Regions from separate parts of the Homo sapiens genome. Here region 1 is linked to region 2. The links come from fine-mapping of genetic effects on gene expression. A gene starts in region 2. The other region holds a variant in brackets. All regions are shown on one strand. Distances are between the middles of the regions.

What was found. PIP is the estimated chance that this variant, and not a neighbour inherited with it, causes the effect.
Region 1: its variant is the best candidate, but not a certain one, in a credible set for the expression of SNRPE in caudate (GTEx, PIP 0.51).

What each region holds. Positions count from the first base shown.
Region 1 is chr1:203,655,376-203,660,752 of GRCh38, forward strand. The region is part of intron 1 of ATP2B4 (ATPase plasma membrane Ca2+ transporting 4); the gene reads left to right. It also overlaps the pseudogene NSA2P1. Among named protein-coding and RNA genes, the nearest start is that of ATP2B4, 31 kb to the left of the region's middle. The variant C/A (reference allele first, on the strand shown) is at 2,752.
Region 2 is chr1:203,859,427-203,864,803 of GRCh38, forward strand. It overlaps SNRPE (small nuclear ribonucleoprotein polypeptide E), which reads left to right and starts at 2,173. Exons shown (of 5, transcript NM_003094.4): 1 at 2,173-2,287; 2 at 2,770-2,796; 3 at 4,237-4,299. The coding sequence starts at 2,234. RefSeq lists enhancers at 1,955-2,249, 2,058-2,317, 2,703-3,278.

The DNA.
Region 1 (5,377 bases), 200 kb before region 2:
TGGCTCACGTCTGTAATCCCAGCACTTTGGGAGGCCAAGGCAGGCGGATCACCTGAGATCAAGAGTTGGAGACCAGCCTGGCCAACATGGAGAAACCCTGTCTCTGCTAAAAATACAAAAATTAACCAGGTGTGGTGGTGCGTTCCTGTAATGCCAGCTACTTGGAAGGCTGAGGCAGGAGAATTGCTTGAACCTGGGAGGTGGAGGTTGCAGTGAGCTCAGATCATGTCAGTGCACTCCAGCCTGGGCAACATAGCAAGACTCCATCTCAAATAATAATAATAATAATAAATAAAATAAGAAACAAAAGGAAGAAAAGGAAAAAATGCTGTCAAATAGCATCATATGTTATAGAGAAGTCTCACTAAAAAGTCAATCAATGCAGCAAACTTTATTGTTGTCTTATTTGAAGAAATTGTCACAGCTACCCCACCCATCAGCAAGCAGCCATCCACATTGAGAAAAGACCTCTCCACCAGCAAAAAGATTACCACTTCCTGAAGGCTCAGATGATCATTAGCGTTGTGTTTTGTTTTGTTTTGTTTCTGAGACGGAGTCTTGCTCTGTTGCCCAGGCTGGAGTGCAACGGTGCGATCTCGGCTCACTGCAACCTTCGCCTCCTGGGTTCAAGCGATTCTCTCAACTCAGCCTCCCGAGTAGCTGGGATTACATGTGCCACCACGCCCAGCTATTTTTTTTTTTTTTTGGTGATTATAGATTAATATAATATACAGCCATCCTTAAAGCCACAACATATCACAGATCACAAAAGTGCTTTCACCAAGTTACAACCCTAACACCTTACTTTTTTATGTCATCTAACTGCAAATAAGTTTCTCCTCAGAGAATCAGTGCAGTCTTCTTTATCCTTTTAAAACTTAGCTGGAGCTGCTTAAACTAATTCTTAATACCATTCTGAAACTAGAAATATACTGTTTAGAACACAGAAATGCTAAGAAAGTACAAAGACTTTAGTATTTTTTTTCATTTTCATGATTCAAGTAGAAAACAGTGCCAAGTAGGTATTATTCTACATGGTAAATGGAAGAAAAAAATGTTTAGAATGTGAATTCACTAGACCTTTGCGGTATTCAGAAGTTAAGGATTTCACAGGTGAAAAGATTTCTCTAAGAGTTCTGAACTTTGCGTCTTCTCACATACTTTTAGTGTAAACACTGTAAACTTAACATCTGTATTAATGCTGTCTTTTTAGGATTAATGAATAACGAGGTAGAAGATACTTCATTTAAATTCTCAGACACATAATTAAGTGTGTATTAACCTTTTTGAAAGGCATTTTCAACGGAACTGGTGGTTTTTCAGGAAATTGCTGAATACCCACGCATAAATGCAGATATTGATGAAGTAGGATATTTGTATATTTGCTTTTTTTCAATCATTCAATTTTATGAACATGGGGTCTAAGCAGATTTCAAAACAAAGACCATTTATAAAACTGGACCATTTTAATGTTTACAATGTAATAAATCTCTTGATTGCAGACATATATGGCTGTTTGGTAGAAACATTACAGTAATGGCAGTTTTTTCAGTTGGTGTGTAGTCCCCAATAATTATATATGAAATTGCTGTCAAACCAGTAAGACTGCATTTATGCAGCCATCATTTTCAGGACTGTTGGTAACCTGAGCATATTTTCTCCAAATAACTTTGCCTCCTTGTGTCACAAGGCCCAATTCGCTCACATTTACCTCAATGACAATATCTTTGGTAATAACACCCACAGTTGTATACGGTGGGGATGAGGGATTCTTCTTTACACCAAGTATTGGTGGGCAAAAGGTGGCTTTCAGTTCAAGATGTAATACATGGGCTTTCTTGAAATGCATATTGGCCTGATCAGTCTTTCTTATTTAGGTGGTTTTCTTGTAAAGCCATCTCCGACAAAGCAGAGTTTAGTAACCACCCTCTTCCATGCCTTCTTCTTTCTCTTTCCTGTTCAAACAACTTTTAATACGTCTGTTTCTCCCTGGGCATGTACTTTAGTCAGAGGGACTTCCCGTTTTCCCACCTTCTCTTTTCATTTCTGTTTAATCATATTGGAAAGTACTTTGGCTCGAGATTGTCCCTCTCTGTCCAGCAGATAAGCAGGTACTGCTCCCTGTGGAGTCTTTTCATCCTTCTTTTGTTTGGTGTTTCTCTTTTCATGCATCTTGATAGTCTTTTTCATTTGTATTTTCTCAGCATGACACTGTTTAAGGTAAAGCTTAGCCTTCAGACCAATCATTTGCTTTGCCTTCTTTGAACGTTCATGAGCCTCTCGTTCATAAGCCTCTCAGCTTTCCTTCTTTCTTTTCTTCTCATGGTAATCCAAACGGTATCCATAGTGTTTATGGTGTAATTCAATATATTCGTTCTGTGGCATGGTGACAGGCGCAGAACCACCAGGAGTAGCCCCTGAGGTGCGAAAACACTCTCAATTTTAAGGTCTCAGAGACTCCACGCAGGCCGGGACAGGAAAGGGTCACCCTTTTTTAAAAATATTTGTAGTAGAGACAGGGTTTCACCATGTTGGCCAGGCTGGCCTTGAACTCCTGACCGCAAGTGATCCGCCCCCCTCAACCTCCCAAAGTGCTAGGATTACAGGCGTGAACCACGGCCGATCATTAGCATTTTTAACACAAAATATATTTTAATTAAGGTAGTCACATTGTGTTTTTTAACCATAAAAACACTTAATAGACTATAGTATTGTGTACACATAACTTTTATATGCACTGAGAAACCAAAA[C/A]AATAATAAATAACCAGGAACTTGCCTTATTGCAGTGGTCTGGAATCGTACCTGCAATGTCTCCAAGGTATGCCTGTACTAAAAGGAAAGTCTAAGATTCAAGAAGGGATGATGGACTGAGCACTGTGGCTCATGCCTTATAGTCCTAGCACTCTGGAAAACCAAGATGAAAGGATCTTTTGAGCTCAGGAGTTCAAGAACAGCCTGGGCAAAATAGAGAAACCTCATCTCTAATAAAAATTAAAAAAAAAAAAAAAAGCCTGGCATGATGATGCAGGCCTGTAGTCCCAGCTACTTGGGAGACTGAGGTGGGAGGATCACTTGAGCCCAGGAGATTCAGTCCGCAGTGAGCTATGATGGCGCCACTGCACTCCACCCTGGCCAACAGAGGGAGACCCTGTCTCAAAAAAAAAAGAAAAAAAGAAAAAGAAACGAAGACGGGATGATGAGCAAATAAAATGGTAAACATGGAGTGAAATCTAAATATTGATGTCAAAGACAAGAAATATCAGAAATATAACAATGTCTAATTGATAGGAATAAAATGAAGATATAATTTAAATCCTCAGTAACTATAGTATATAAATTGGAAGGTAAGGCCAGGCATGGTGGCCCATGCCTGTAATCCCAACACTTTGGGAGGCTGAGGCGGGTGGATCACAAGGTCAGGAGATCGAGACCAGCCTGGCCAACATGGTGAAACCCCGTCTCTACTAAAAATACAAAAATTAGCTGGGCGTGGTGGTGTGTGCCTGTAATCCCAGCTACTGAGGAGGCTGAGGCAGGAGAATTGCTTGAACCCAGGAGGTGGAGGTTGCAGTGAGCCGAGATCGCGCCACTGCACTCCAGCCTGGGTGACAAAGTGAGACTGCGTCTGAAAAAAAAAAAATTAGAAGGTGAATATAGTAATTGGAGTTTAAGTGTTCTAAGGTCCTTATATTTTCTAGGGAAAAAATTAAAGATATTGCTTATTAGAAGTCTTTATGTTAAGATTTCTAGGCTAATACTAAAAAACTTGGTATAATATAACTTCCAAACTAGCAGAGGGGAAGAAAAATGAAAAGGAAACACAAATGAAAATGATAGAAAATGTGTCAGTTAAAAAAAAATTTATGGTTGTGATATCGAAGAAAATAATAAAGATTACCATTTCTTGAGTAGCTCTTGTATTAATCACTTTGAATCATTAATCTTTATAATTTCATGTAATATATGTCAGAATGACAAGCCCAAAGCAGGTATTTAAAAATTATAGTTTCTGGCCAGGTGCAGTGGCTCACACCCATAATCCCAGCACTTTGGGAGGCAGAGGTGGGAGGATCACTTGAGCCCAGGAGTTTGAGACCAGCCGAGACCACACAGCAAAACGTTGTCTCTACAAAAACATTTGAAAATTAGCCAGGCATGGTGGCACACCCCTGTAGTCCACAAAGGAGGCTGAGGTGGGAGGATCACTTGAGCCCAGAGGCTGAGGCTTCAGTGAGTTCTGATCATGCCACTGCATTCCAGCCTGAGTAACAGAGCAAGACCCTGTCTCAAAAAATAAAAATAAAAATTAGCTAGGCATGTGGGGGAAGCCTGTAGTTCTAGCTACTGGGGAGGCTGAAGCGGGAAGATTGCTCCATCCAGCCTGGTTGGCAGGGTGAGACCCTGTTGCTAAAAAAAATATATAAAAAGCTGGGTGTGGTGGCTCACGCCTGTAATTCCAGCACTTTGGGAGGCCAAGGCAGGTGGATCACAAGATCAGGAGTTCAAGATCAGCCTGGCCAAAATGGTGAAATCCTGTCTCTACTAAAAACACAAAAATTAGCCGGGCGTGGTGGCAGGTGCCTGTAATCTCAGCTACTCGGGAGGCTGAGGCAGGAGAATCGCTTGAACCTGGGAGCTGGAGGTTGCAGTGAGCCAAGATTGTGCCACTGCACTCCAGCCTGGGCGGCAGAGCAAGACTCCATCTCAAAAAAAAAAAAAAAAAAAGAAAGAAAGAAAGAAAGAAACTTGTCCAAGGTCACAGAGCTTGGATTCCAATCCAAGTATTTGAAATTCAACCCAAGCTACTTTTCCCTTTACCATGTGGTAGATTTTTTCTCTCTAATGCCAAAACATCATGTAACAGCCAAGACCATGAGTTTTTTGGACCTGGGTTTATGGTCCAGTTTCACCACAAGTTAACTGCAGAGCTTTAGGCCTCAGTTCCTTCAGTTGTTGAAAGAGGATAAAAATAGCTATCACAAAAGGTAGTAGGTTGGAAGATCGTGAGAATGCACGCCATTGGGGTGAGAATGTATCACTTGGGGTGGTGGAGATAAAAAATGAGGTCCCAGTTCAATGTAACAGCCGATGAATAGGCTCCTAGGGAGCAGTAAGAAGAGAACGGAGGTGGGGGGTGGGGGGAGGCCTGGGCACAGTGGCTCACGCCTGTAATTCCAGCACTTTGGGAGACCGAGGTGGGCAGATCGTGAGGTCAAGAGATCGAGACCAGCCTGGCCAACATGGTGAAACCCCATCTCTGCTGAAAATACAAAAATTAGCTGGGCATGGTGTGAGCACCTGTAATCCCAGCTACTTGGGAGGCTGAGGCAGGAGAATTGCTTGAACCTGGGAGACGGAGGTTGCAGTGAGCCAAGAT
Region 2 (5,377 bases):
TAATTTTTAAATTTTTTGGTAGAGCCAAGGTCTCATTATGTTGCTCAGGCTGGTCTTGAACTCCTGGGTTCGAGCAAGCCTCCTGCTTCTGCTTCTCAAAATGCTGGGATTACAGGCATGAGCTCGCGCACCTGGCTGAAATTTTTTTTTTTTTTTCTTTGAGACAGAGTCTTGCTCTGTCACCCAGGCTGGAGTGCAGTGGCGCGATCTCGGCTCACTGCAACCTCTGCCTCCCAGATTCAAGCAATTCTCCTGCCTCAGCCTCCTGAGTAGATGGGACTACAGGCGCCTACCACTACGCCCAGCTAATTTTTGTATTTTTAATAGAGACGGGGTTTCACCATATTGGCCAGGCTGGTCTCAAACTCCTGACCTTGTGATCTGCCTGCCTCAGCCTCCCAAAGTGCTGGGATTTACAGGCATGAGCCACTGTGCCCAGCCCTGGCTGAAATTTTTTAAAGGAAATAGTTATCCCATGCATTTGCCAGCTTTGTGTAGTTTATTTATTTATTTATTCTTATTTATTTTTTTGAGACGGAGTCTCGCTCCGTCACCAAGGCTGGAGTGCAGTGGCATGATCTCGGCTCACTGCAACCTCTGCCTCCTGGGTTCAAGTGATTCTCCTGTCTCAGTCTCCCAAGTAGCTGGGATTACAGGCATGTGCTACCATGCATGGCTAATTTTTGTATTTTTAGTAGAGACAAGGTTTCACCATGTTGCCCAGGCTGGTCTCGAACTCCTGACCTCAGTTGATCCACCTGCCTCGGCCTCCCAAAATGCTGGGATTACAGGCGTGAGCCTGGCCGCTTTGTGTAGTTTAAAAATCACTTTCAACTCAACCCCTTTCTGAAGTCGTTATTACTATTATCCCCATTAAACAGAAGCCCTCAGAAAAGCTAATTTTGATTCTGCCATTTGCCCTAATCCGTGTTCCCTTAGGCAAGTCCTTTCAAAAGTCTAAACTTCAGTTTCCTCCTCTATAACATGTGTATGCCAATTAAGTGAAATCTCTGCCAGGCCACAAGCCATGACACAATGGAAAGGTAGGTGGACTTTGGGGTCAGGCACACCTACAAATTCCAGCTGCTCCACTTAGTAGCTGTGTTATCCAGGGAAGGACATGTTCTGACACTGGCTGACGCCTAACTGTGTGCACACATAGACAATTATTTCATTGAATCTTTAAGCCCCTGAGTAAAGTTAATCTTTACTATAATCTCCGTTTTGGAAACTAAGCCAAGACATGGCGAGGCTGAGTAATTTATCCTTGGTCACCAACTCTAAAAGAGCTGGATTTGCGCCCAGCATGTGGATTTCAGCGTCTTCCTGGTAAATCGCCACCCTCAGTTGCCACCTGAACAGTAACTCTCCACGAAATGGATGAGAATTGAATCCGTAACTGGAGGGAACCAGGCGTCTGGCTTTGGAATGCAGACCGCCTCTGGCCGACTGCCAGAGGTGGGAGGCCTGAAGTTTGGGCTCCTTGCCGCCCTACCCTTTCCACCACAACGCTGCTATCAAGCCTAAACTCCAGCAAAATAGGCTTTAGGAAAGGCACGAAATTAACTCATTTTACACATAGAGATACACACTGGGACGATTTTGGCTTTTCAAGCTAACTCAGAAAATGGAGATACAGGCCGGGCGCGGTGGCTTACGCCTGTAATCCCAGCACTTTGGGAGGCCGAGGCGGGCGGATCATGAGGTCAGGAGATCGAGACCATCCTGGCCAACATGGTGAAACCCCGTCTCTACTAAAAACACAAAAAATTAGTCGGACGTGGTGGCAGGCGCCTGTAGTCCCAGCTACTCGGGAGGCTGAGGCAGGAGAATCGCTTGAACCCTGGAGGCTGAGGTTGCAGTGAGCTGAAATCGCGCCACTGCACTCCAGCCTGGGCGACAGAGCGAGACTTCGCCTCAAAAAAAAAAAAAGAAAAGAAATTGGAGACAGGACGGCACTCCTCCTACCACGGCCACTATACAACCGAAGGCACCTCCTCCCGCCTCCCTCCAGGTGGCGCTGTAGGACCGGCCCACCTTCCACAGCGCAGACGCCTCAGTTTGGCCTCCCTCGGAGGCCATGCAGCGAAGAAACGTGACTTCATGGCTAGAGGGGCATTTCCCAGGAGCCGCCCATGCCGCCGCGTGACCTTCACACTTCCGCTTCCGGTTCTTTATTCCGGAAGTTGCTCTCAGAGGCAGCGTGCGGGTGTGCTCTTTGTGAAATTCCACCATGGCGTACCGTGGCCAGGGTCAGAAAGTGCAGAAGGTTATGGTGCAGCCCATCGTATCCTACGCAGGATGTCAGGACTAGGAGGTTCGGGTCAGAATACGGGGTGCGAAGGCGCAGGCTGAGGGCAGGCCTGGGATAGTGGAGTACGGATCCACATCCCATGAGCCCCCGGGGCTACCAAGACTGGAAGAAAGCGCGGGTAGTTGAACCGTGATGGTGGGGAGGTGGTCTTGGGGGGACCCCTGCCGTGGGGAATGCAGGAATGGACGCGGCAAAAGGAGGGAAGAGAACTTCAGGTGCGGAGTGAAAACGGGAGTTAACGGTTTTGGGAAACTCCAGGGGGATGAAAGTGGAATGGATGTTCTTTAGTCTTTAGAAGACCCGTAACGAATGCCCAGCTGGGCACTTGTTGTTTGCGTAAGCACCAGACCTCGCGTTTAGTAAACAAAGGTGAGACGGGAATAGCGTCGTCCGGTTGTTTCAGGAAGCAGAGTCTATGCTGCTTTTGTATTTTTTCCTTAGCCACTGTGGTGCAGAACCTCATCTTCAGATACTTACAAAATGTACGTAAGTTGCTTGTTTCGTAACTACTTTTTAAATAAGAGGTGAACTGATTTAGTTTTTTGTGTTAACCTGAGCGATCGCTGTGTTCTAGAATTTAAAAATAGATGTAACTGGAGATTGGAGGGTAATTGAGGGGAAGGAGTACTTAGAAAGCACTAATGTGATGAAGTGGTGTGTATCCATGCCACTTCCCAACATGCAAAGAATTGTATCCATTACTTTGCAAGATCAAAAATACTTTTTAATTCCAAAAAGTATTATTAGCAGACTTGACCATGGTATTTGGGCATCAGTAGTTTTGTTAGTAGTGATTATGGCTAGAACATTGGAACCTCTCCCCTTTAGGATGAAACATTGGAAGAAAAACCCAGCCAACTTAAACCATGTCAAGAGGTGGTGTGTTTAATACCTGTGGGAAAACTTAAAGACGAAAAAAGGAAGAGAGAAGGGGTAGCTTCAGAGGAGTTTAGTGGCAGCTGCTTTCCTTTGAGGGAAATTTTAGCAACTTAAATTTTATAGTGTGATAACACAACTGAAAAACATTAATTTCAGGTGATAATAATTCTTAACCACCTGAATTGAGGGCTCCTGTCCTAGTTGTTAGGTGTGTGACATGAGAAGGCTTTGTTTTGGAACTGGATTTTGCTGCAGGAGATAAGCCCTTGGTCATTAGAAATTACTGCTTTGTGCTATGCTGTCAAAAACTTTCACTCTTAATAGATTGAGACCAGAAGCAGTAAGAAATATTGAGTCCCAAAATCACAGGAAAATTATTAGCTTATACAGTTCCAATATAGAACTTATTAAATGAAAATTCTTTTTGAGGTTATTATTATTGGTGAATAATTCTTAGATATGGGCTAATTAGTTAAAACTTTTGACTTACATTCATTACAATTTTTTTAGGAGCCATATTTCTCTTGTCGTTTGACCAAAATGGTTAGGTTTTGTATACTTCAATTTTTTGGGGGGCGGGGGGCGGGGAGATCTTGCTTAATGTTGCGCAGGCTTATATTGAACACCTGGCCACAAAGCGAATTATTCCGCTTTGGCATCCCAAAGTATGGGAACGGTGTGAATCGAGGCACCTGGCCTGTTTTTCTTTTCTTTTTTTTGAGACGGAGTCTCACTGTGCCCAGGCTGGAGTGCAGTGGCGCGATCTCAGCTCACTGCAACCTCTGCCTCCCGGGTTCAAGCGATTCTCCTGCTTCAGCGTCCCGAGTAGCTGGGACTACAGGCGTGCGCCACCACGCCCAGCTAATTTTTTTTGTATTTTTAGTAGAGATGGGGTTTCACCATGTTAACGAGGATGGTCTCTATCTCTTGACCTTGTGATCCACCTCCCTCGGCCTCCGAAAGTGCTGGGATTACAGGCGTGAGCCACCGCGCCCGGCCCTATTTTTCTTTTTTTAACGTTTCCACTTTTATGATTATTTCAGAGATCGCGGATTCAGGTGTGGCTCTATGAGCAAGTGAATATGCGGATAGAAGGCTGTATCATTGTGAGTATCCAGGCGATTTCATCTCATAGCAGTTCGGTCGTAGAAAAAGACTTAACAGAAAGTGTCTAGCCAGAACAGTGTATAAAAAGTCAAAGATCCAACCTAAGGAAAGTTTTTCAGGTGCTGCTGTTTAGCCTTTTTTCATTGTTGATAGATAAGGATTGGGTAGTTTTTAATAGGGAAAATAACTTTTAATTCATTTTCTTTCCTCTGTCTATGTTGAGAAGAAAATTTGTATTTGATTTTTGAGAAAGGGCTTTGTTCTGTTGCTTAGGCTGGAGTGCAGTGGCACAATCATGGCTCGTTGCAGCCTCAACCTCCCGGGCTCAAGTAGTCCTCCTGCCTCAGCCTCCCAAGTAGCTAGGATCAGAAGCGTGCACCATCACAGCCTGCTAAATTTTTATTTTTTATAGAGATGAGGTCTCACTGTGTTGCCCAGGCTGGTCTCAAACTCCTAGGCTCAAGTGATTCTCCCACCTCAGCCTCTCAAAGTCTTGGGATTACAGGCATGAGCCACAACGCCTGGCTGAAAATTAACTTTTAAAAATTATTCGAAAAAAAAATATTGAGCGACAATGTTAGTATGGAGAGGGGGGACAAAATAAATGAAATTAGGGAGGGTGGGGTTATTTGTTGTGGGTTAGGTGATACCTGAATAGAGAGCTCAGTGGGGTTAGTTAAATAAGGCTTCTGGGATAGCAGGCTACCCTAAATTTTTTTTTTTAAGTTGGGGTCCGGCTCTGTCACCCAGGTGCTCTCAGCTCACTGCAATCTTGAACTCCTTGGCTCAAGTGATTTTTCCACCTCAGCCTCTAGTAGCTGGGAACTATAGGCATACACCACCAGGTCCAGCTAATTTTTAAATATTTTGCTGGGCAAGGTGGCTCACGCCTGTAATCCTAGCACTTAGGGAGGCCGAGCATGATGAATCACTTTAGCTCCAGAGTTCGAGACCAGCCTGGGCAACATGATGAAACCCTGTTTCTACCAAAAATACAAAAAGTAGCCAGGCATGGTGGTGCGCCCTGTAGTTCCAGCTACTTGGGGGGAGCTGAGGCAGAAGAATTGCTTGAACCCA